Linked DNA regions of Homo sapiens: region 1 is linked to region 2. Evidence: fine-mapped expression QTL. A gene starts in region 2. The other region holds a variant in brackets. All regions are shown on one strand. Distances are between the middles of the regions.

Evidence for each region. PIP is the estimated chance that this variant, and not a neighbour inherited with it, causes the effect. A credible set is the group of variants that fine-mapping cannot tell apart.
Region 1: its variant is the best candidate, but not a certain one, in a credible set for the expression of PLAC9 in stomach (GTEx, PIP 0.79).

The regions. Positions count from the first base shown.
Region 1 is chr10:79,983,745-79,988,138 of GRCh38, reverse strand. No RefSeq gene overlaps it. Among named protein-coding and RNA genes, the nearest start is that of SFTPD, 37 kb to the right of the region's middle. The variant C/T (reference allele first, on the strand shown) is at 1,868.
Region 2 is chr10:80,130,402-80,134,795 of GRCh38, reverse strand. It overlaps PLAC9 (placenta associated 9), which reads right to left and starts at 2,066. Exons shown (of 4, transcript NM_001012973.3): 1 at 1,970-2,066. The coding sequence starts at 2,033.

The sequences.
Region 1 (4,394 bases), 150 kb after region 2:
TTGACAACTTACCTCTTATTGCAAAAACAAGCAACAAACAAGCAAAGAGAAAACAAATAAAACTCTACCCTTTAACTTCATTCTCCCACTTTTTAACTTTTTAGTTTCTATTTATATCTTATTATACTTGCTGTGTCTTAAAAAGTTGTTATACTTATTATTTTTGATAGGTTCATTTTTTAGTATTCCTACTCAAGGCATTAGTATTTTACACACTACAATTACAGTGTTATAATATTCTATATTTATCTATGTACTTATTGTTACCAGTGAGTTTTGTATCTTCAGATTCTTTTTCTTTTCTTTTTTTTTGAGATGGAGTCTTGTTCTGTCACCCAAGCTGTAATGCAGTGGCATGATCTCAGCTCACTGGAACCTTTGCCTCCTGGGTTCAAGTGATTCTCCTGACTCAGCCTCATGAGTAGATGGGATTACAGTTGCCTGCCACCACACCTGGCTAATTTTTGTAGTTTTAGTAGAGACGGACTTTCACCCGGCTGGCCTTGAACTCCTGACCTTGTGATCCACCCGCCTCAGCCTCCCAAAGGGCTGTGATTATAGGCGTGAGCCACTGCGCCCAGCCAGATGTCTTATTGCTTGTTAACATCCTTTCTTTTTTCAGATCGAAGAACTCCCTTTAACATTTCCTGTAGGATAAGTCTGGTGTTGATAAAATCCCTAAGATTTTATTTGTCTGGGAAAGTATTTCTCCTTCATGTTTGAAGGATATTTTCACTGGATTTAATATTGTAGAATACAAGTTTTTCCTCCAGCACTTTACATATATAATGCCACTCTCTCTTGGCCTGTAAGGTTTCCACTGAGAAATCTACTGCCAGATGTGTTGCGCCTTTATATGTTATCTTTTTCTTATATCTTGCTGCTTTTAGGATCCTTTCTTCATCTTTGACATTTGGAAATCTGATTATTAAATATCTTGAGGTAGTCTTATTTGGGTTAAATCTGCTTGGTATCCCATAAGTTTCTTTTTCTTTTTTTCTTTTTTTTAATTCAGGTGTCCTTTTACTGCCGGCAACCGAGAGATGGCTAGAGCTCAAAATTCTCTCGGCCCTGAAGAAGGGGCTAGATTTCTTTTTATACTGTGATCTAAATAGGGGATGGGGAGCCTAGCTGAAGCAATTTTTACGGAAGCAGAACAGGCAAAAAGTTTAAAAAAATTAATGGTTACAGAGATAGTTACAGAAATATAAACAGTTCCAGGTGCAGGGGCTTAAACTATCACAAAGAGATAAATGCAGGGGCTTGGGTACCATCCACTGAGCACATCCCCAGCAGCTGCTGGTACAGCTTGCCTCAATATCTTATCAGTAAGTGCATTCCTGGATGTGCTTGGAGTCAGCTTGCACTAGTTATTCCCCTAAGGGAGGGGGGATAAGGGGGCTGCAAGTGAAGAAGCTAAAATGGAGTCTGTCCGGCTCTCTCAGCTAAGAGAGAGTCACTCAGGTTAAAACAGGGTAGGGTATCACAGATAGACAGTTGATATAATTGATAGATGATAGATTACTTTTATGGGTCCTCCCCTGTCCATTAAGACTGAAACTGTGTGTGATTATGTTTCCTTGAATCATTACCACTTTTTTCTTCCTAAGCGTGTTACCTTCCTATTTCACCATAGAAACTTTCAATATTTTGCTCAGAAACTCAGGGCTTTTGGGTACTGCCCTCCCACTGTCTAGTTTTTGTGCTTTCTTTTGGGGTCCTCTCTGGAGGCCACAACCATCTTTGGGGCATGCCCAGGAGAGAAGGAGGTGGATCTAGTTCCCTTAGAATGGCTTTGGTGATGCTCTTTGCTGCAGACAGACTACAATCTGCTCCAACATCCCTTCCCCCTTTCTTTTTTCTTTGC[C/T]TCCCCTCCTCTGCCACATCTCTATTCCTCCCAGCCTTTCTCCACTCTTCTGTACGCCCATCATTCTCCTCCACTTCCAAGGTCACAGGCATCACCATGTAAGCCTCCCATCCCAGATAAGCAGCCTCCAAGATGACCCATGATCCCCACCTCCTTGTATGTACATCGTTGTGTAGGACCCTTCTGCACTGAGCAGGGCTGAGCTGTGTTAGCACTAGGATATATGGGAATGACAAGGTGGCATATGACTTCCAAAGTTAAGGTCACTTTGCTGTCTCGGATCACTAAGGCAGCTATCATGTTGTGAGGAGGCTCAAGTTGTCTTGTGGTGGGTCCCTGTGGCAAGGAACTGAGCTCTCCTGCTGACAGCCAGCAGTGCCTTCCCAACCATTAGAGTGAGTCACCTTAGAAGCAAATTCTCCAGCTCCAGTGTATCCTTTAGATAACTGCCACTCTGGTCATCATCTTGTCTACAACCTCATGAGAAACCTCAGCCAGAACCACCCAGCTAAGTTGCCTCTGAATTCCTGAGACACAGAAACTGTGAGATAATAAATGTTTACTGTTTTAAGACTCTAAATTTGGAGTAATTTGCTATTCAGCCATAGAAACTAACACTCATTTCATCATGCCTGACACTGATATCGCTACAGTTTCACATCCCTGTGGCTAAAGCTCTCCAAGGGCTCATCATTAATTTCAGGATAAAATCCAAATCCCTTAACATAGAATAGGTCTTTTATGAACTGCCTCCTGCATGCCTCTCAGCCCCATCCGGCCCACTCTGCCTTTCCTCCTTGCATCACTCCAGCTACTCTGAAACACACTGCACCTTCCTAAATGTGGACAGATAAAATTGCCAGACTTTTCATAGGATGCCCAGTGAAATTTGAATTTCAGATAAATAACAAATAATTTGTGTGGTTATACAATATTTGGGACATACTTATACTAAAAACATTGCATGACACATACTTATTCTTAAAAGTTATTATTTTATCTGAAATTCACATTTAATAGGGCATCCTGTACTTTCCGTTGCTAAATCTGGCAACGCTACAGATGCGAGCTGCTCACTTTCACCTCCTGCTCAGTCCCCAGCTGGATCACTACAGCTCCCCCTGACTAGCTCCCTGCCCTGCAAGACTTGGCCCAGACATCAGTGCCCCTAGAAAGCCTAGACTAACTTCTCTGCCCTATACACACCTAGGATGAGTCAGACGTGCCTGCTGCAGGCTCCCGCCCACCCGTCACACCTCTCTCACACCACACACTTTGCAAGTATTTGTTTACCTGTCTCCAGTACTAGACTCTGAGATTCTTGAGGTCAGGAACTGTCTTACTCACTGCGACGTGGCTTCAGTGCCAAAAACATAGTATAATTAGTTTATACTTACTGAAGATTTACTCTAAGGTAGTCGCTGTTCTAAGATGTTCTGCATATATCAACTTATTGAATTTTCATATCAAGCCAAAGGAGGTACTATTAACATCCCACTCTTACTGGGGAGGAATCTGAGACAGAAATAGGTTTTGTGACTTCTCCAGTGTCATTTGAAAATGGCAGGGAAGTTGGGGTTCAAAGCCAGGAGTCTGACTCCAGAGCCCACCCTCTAACAAACTAGACACATTGCCTCTTTACAGTGCATGATAAGTGCTTGCCAAATGCATGTTAGAACTGACTATCCAGCTAAGTTTCTCCAAACTAGATAACTGCCTTTAAGCAGGGACCTTGCTGCCTGTGCCCCTCCCAGCTCTCTCTCCAGTCACCACTACTGAGCACAATGCATGGTGCCTTCTTCACAAGCAAATACCTTCTCCCTTCTTCAAATCCTGACTACAGATCCAGGGTAGCACCATCTACCACACCTCCCTAAAAAAGAATGGTTATAGGCAGGGAGCAGCGGCTCACGCCTGTAATCCCAGCACTTTGGAAGGCCGAGGCGGGTGGATCACCTGAGGTCAGGAGTTTGAGACCAGCCTGGGCAACATGGCGAAACCCTATCTCTACTAAAAATACAAAAAATTATACGGGCATGGTGGCACGTGCCTGTAATCCCAGCTACTCAGGAGGCTGAGGCAGGAGAATCCCTTGAATCTGGGAGGCGAAGGTTGCAGTGAGCCGAGATCGCGCCACTGCACTCCAGCCTGGGTGTCAGAGTGAAACCCCATCTCATATACATATATATATATAGTGGTTACAGCATATGCCTTAGAAATATAAGCCAAGAGAGCACTGTGATTAATACTGTCAGTTCTAGAGTAAAATTCCCTGGGCTTAGATCCTAACTGTACTGCTTATTAGCTGTATGGTTTTGGATGAGGCCCTGAGACTTAGATTCTTCATCTAAGAAATGGAGATGTAGCATCTGGAACACAGCATGTACTCAGTAAATGTCAGCTGTCACCATTGTCATTGCCAATCCACTCAGCCCACGGGCAGGTATGTATGGTCCTGGCAAAAGTTGTTAAGAGGAGGCCGCAGGCGCTGGGGAGCATGCGGAGAGGCTGCGTGGAGCTGCGTGCT
Region 2 (4,394 bases):
GACATATTGACCAAATGCAGTGTATGTAACCTTATTTGGATCAAACAAATGAATTGCAAAAAGATATGACACAATCAATCAAGGACATTTGAACAGTGATTGAATATTTAATGATATTCAATCACACACAGTTTTTGGAGTATGATCATAGCATTGCAGTTATGTTTATTAAGAGTGCTTATCTCTTAGAGGTACACAAAGAAATATTTATAGATGAAAATACATGATGCCAGGCCAGGCATTGTGGCTCACACCTGTAATCCCAGCACTTTGGGAGGCCAAGGCAGGTGGATCACTTGAGCCCAGGAGTTCGAGACCAGCCTGGCCAACATGGTGAAACCCTATCTCTACTAAAAATACCAAAATTAGTCAGGTGTGGTGGTGCGTGCCTGTAGTCCCAGCTACTCAGGAGGCTGAGGCAGGAGAATCAGTTGAACCCGGGAGACGGAGGTTGCAGTGAGCTGAGATTGTGCCACTGCATTCTAGCATGGGTGACAGAATGAAATCCTGTCTCAAAAAAAAAAAAAAAAGAAAGAAAGAAAGAAAGAAAATATACAATGCCTGGATTTCCTTTAAAATAATCCAGGGAGGGGAGAGAGGGTGGAGGCTATAGATGAGATAAAACTGCCCATGAACTGATACTTCTTGAAGCAGCGTTGATAAGTATATTACATGATTCTTTCACATACTATTACTTTGTATTTTTTTGTATCCAAAAGTTTTCATAATCAAAAGTTAAGATATATCATCTAAAATCTGAAAGATTATGCACAAAAATATATGAAATCAGTGTGAAATTACACTAATACATGAATACTTTCCTCCTTTCCTTCTTCTTTTTTTTTTTTTTTTGAAACTGAGTCTTGCTCTGTCACCCAGGCTGGATTGCGGTGGCTTGATCTCGGCTCACTGCAACCTCCGCCTCCCAGGTTCAAGTGATTCTCCTGCCTCAGCCTGCCGAGTAGCTGGGACTACAGGCATGTGCCACCACGCCCGATTAATTTTTTGTATTTTTAATAGAGACAGCATTTCACCATGTTAGCGAGGCTGGTCTTGATCTCCTGAGCTTGTGATCCGCCCGCCTGAGGGGTAGGTGAGGGGAAGAAAGCGGACAGTGAAAAGCAAGGAACCCAGCTAATGGAGTACCCAGACAGCCTCTCTCCTCCGCACAGCTCTCCACCTCCACCCAGTCCCCCATCTCCACCCAACATAGCTCAGTTTCCCAGAGAAGCTCCCTGGAAACCGGGAGGCTGACTTCTTCACTGACTGCAGATCCACCTGAGGCCACCTGGCAGGTGAATCGGTGGCCTTTCTCCTGGGCCCGACTGCCTGGTTCCTTAAGGCTGTGCTGGGCTAGCCTGGGTCACTCATCCTTTGGAGTGTGGCTTCTTATGCAATGTCCTATAAAGCCAGGCCTGAGCCTCCACAGGCCCTCTGAGATGGAGCTGGCCTCCGGGGCTGCCCCACCCAGCAGCTGTGACCTCCCACTCCAGATCCTGGCTCCTTCTCTCTTGCCAGCTCTACTCCGGGCATCGAGCTTCCCTCTCTCTCCTTTTTGGTCTCTCTCAAATCTTTCTCTTTTCTTCAATATCCTCTCTCCCTCCACCCCTTGCCATTTTAATCACTTTTTCTCTTTCCTTCTTCTCTTTTGTCTCTCAAACTCCTTTTTCTTTCTATCTTAGTTCATATCTGTTCAGGGGAAGCCTCTTTCTGTCTCAGCCTCTCCTTTTTCCTTTTCACTGTGTATTCTTCCCTATCTCCTTTATCTCTCCGTTGCTCTACTTCTCTGCCTTTTTCTGAGTCTGTTTCCTCTCAATCTTTCTCTCCATCCCTCCCTCCCTGCATCTGCCTCTCTGTCCATCTCGCTGCTGTGTCCAGCTCTCTCTCCGTCTCTCTCGCTCATTCCTTCCTCGCCATCTGCGGGTCTCCCCGGCTCCAGGTCCCCTGCCGCGCCCTGCGCCCCACTCACCGGCCAAAGAGCCCGCGGCGCGGAGCAGGGCCAGTCCGGTCAGCGCGCAGAGCAGGGGCCGCATGGTGCCGGCCTGGCCGAGCGCAGCGCCGCGTCTGCCCGCAGCCGCCCTTCCCGGATCGCACCCGGCCGGCCCGAGAGGAAATGCACTCAGTTCGAGCCAAAATTCCTGGGCGGCTCCGGACTTTCTGGCTCGAGAGAACCCGCCCCCTCCAGAGGCCCCTCGGCACCCCGTGGGCAGCGCGGAGCCCAGAGACCCCGGGAGCTGAGGCACCGACGTGCCACCTGGGCGCCTCCCGAGGAAGGGGCCGCCCCCCGAGTCCCCGCACCTCCTGGGAGCCCGGGAGGGAAGGCGGGGCGGGGGGCATTGGGTGAGGTCTTGGGCTCAAGGCGACCGAGCCTGGGGTCAGGGGTTTGTTACGAGCCAGTTTCACAGGCGGGCAGACTAAGACTCGGAGGGAAGTGTCTTCCTCGGCATCACTCTCAGCCATAGCACAGGATCTGAACCCCTGTCTCCTGGGAGTTTGGCAGCTTTTCTCTGTCTACCTACGAACAAGAAATTAATTCTAATTACATGGAACAGTGTCTGCCCCTAAGAGGGAGACCCAGAAACTCACTGCTCTGGTAAGGGAGTGATAGAAATATGAAAAGGTAATTTTAAAAAGAAAAGGTAAAATCGTAACTCTCGCAAAGATATGAAATTAGCATATACTAAAGATTTTATTCAATTCATTATTAATGAGGGGATAAGTAAGATGGTACAAGCAGCCCAAAGTTTAGAGCACAGTAGTGGAAACTTCCCCTATGGGACATGCCCATCCAACAAGTGCAACAACAAATTAAGTTTTAGTAAAAACACAAAGCAAAAAAGCTGTAGCTCTAACTTCTCTGCTGCAGAGCCCTGAGTGAGTGTCTCGTCTGGCTGTAAGTGGAACACATTCATCACCAAGCCTGGGAGAATGCCTTTGTCCATCAAGGGTCCCCGTTGGGATTACCTGGAGCTCTTGCAGATCAAGGCTGCCTCTCTGCCTTCTGTGTTCCTGGCTGTGGCTATGCAATTGTCCAAAACAGTTACCACGCTAACCAGTGATCCAGTTCTCACTCCCTCCTCCAGAGCAAGATAGTAGCCTCAGACGGAGAAATTCTGGTTCTGAGCCCGAGAATCTGAGACAGACTCAGATCTAAATCTTTTAAAAGCCTTCAAGGAGATTATGATGCCCACATGAGCTGGCTCAGAAGAAGAATTTATTTCAGGAATGCCAAAAATTTCTCACGCTTGGTGGTAGGACATTCCTTGATAGTTTCGCCAGGTGGGAAAAAAAGTTGTCAAAGAACTGCCCAACTCATAAGGATTCTTGTAGCTTAGAGCCAGTGGGCTACCTTATATTTTGAATTTAAGACTAAGAAAACACACACACACACAAAAACATATACAATACATTATTGTTGCGGTAGAGCATAAAGTAATTAAGTATACAGAGTAAAACATGAAAGTCTTTTCTGTTACGAATTCCCTCCGTCCAATGATTCAGGTCCAGTCCCCTCAACTTGGTAGGCTCTGCCTGTTCCACGTCTATGCATTCCCCATCTACCTAATGTATATTCAGACACAAATGTATATACATGAGATCAAGTCATAGATATTTTGAAGATTTGCTTTCATTCATGTTTATCTCAGTCATAACATTAAATCTTGGCTGGGTGCAGTGGCTCACGCCTGTAATCCCAGCACTTTGGTAGGCCGAGGTGGGTGGATCACCTGAGGCCAGGAGTTTGAGACCAACCTGGCCAACGTGGTGAAACTCCGTCTCTGCTAAAAATACAAAAAATTAGCAGGGCGTGGTGTTGGGCGCCTGTAGTCCCAGCTACTCAGGAGGCTGAGGCAGGAGAATCAGAACCCAGGAGGCGGAAGTGGCAGTGAGCCAAGATTGCACCACTGCACTCCAGCCTGGGCAACAGAGCAAGACTCCATCTTAAAATAAAAGAAAATAATCTTGGAGATCAGTCTATGTGGGTACAGATAAATCCACTTCATTCCTTTTAAGAGTTAAAATATCCCATGAATGGATACAAGGAGCATTATTTATCCAAACAGTCCCCTATTGACAGACATGTAGATTGCTTCCTTTTTCTCTCCAATATAAAATAAGCTTTAATAAACATTCCTTTGCATATATCTTCATGTACGTAGTACATATTCCTGTATGTACATATTTCTGAAAGGCTGGAAGAGGAATCATTGCGTCAAAGGCCTTTTACATTTTGCCAGATAGGCCAAAAACTGTTCCCCAAATTGTTACTAAGCCCACAGGAGGGGCAAGGGGTCTTCCAGCGCTGTTCCAAGGTGCACCTGAGCATGTTAGTCTAGGTAGGAATTGGGCTGCAGGGGGCGCCATTTACATAAAATACTTCTGCGCTGGGCGCG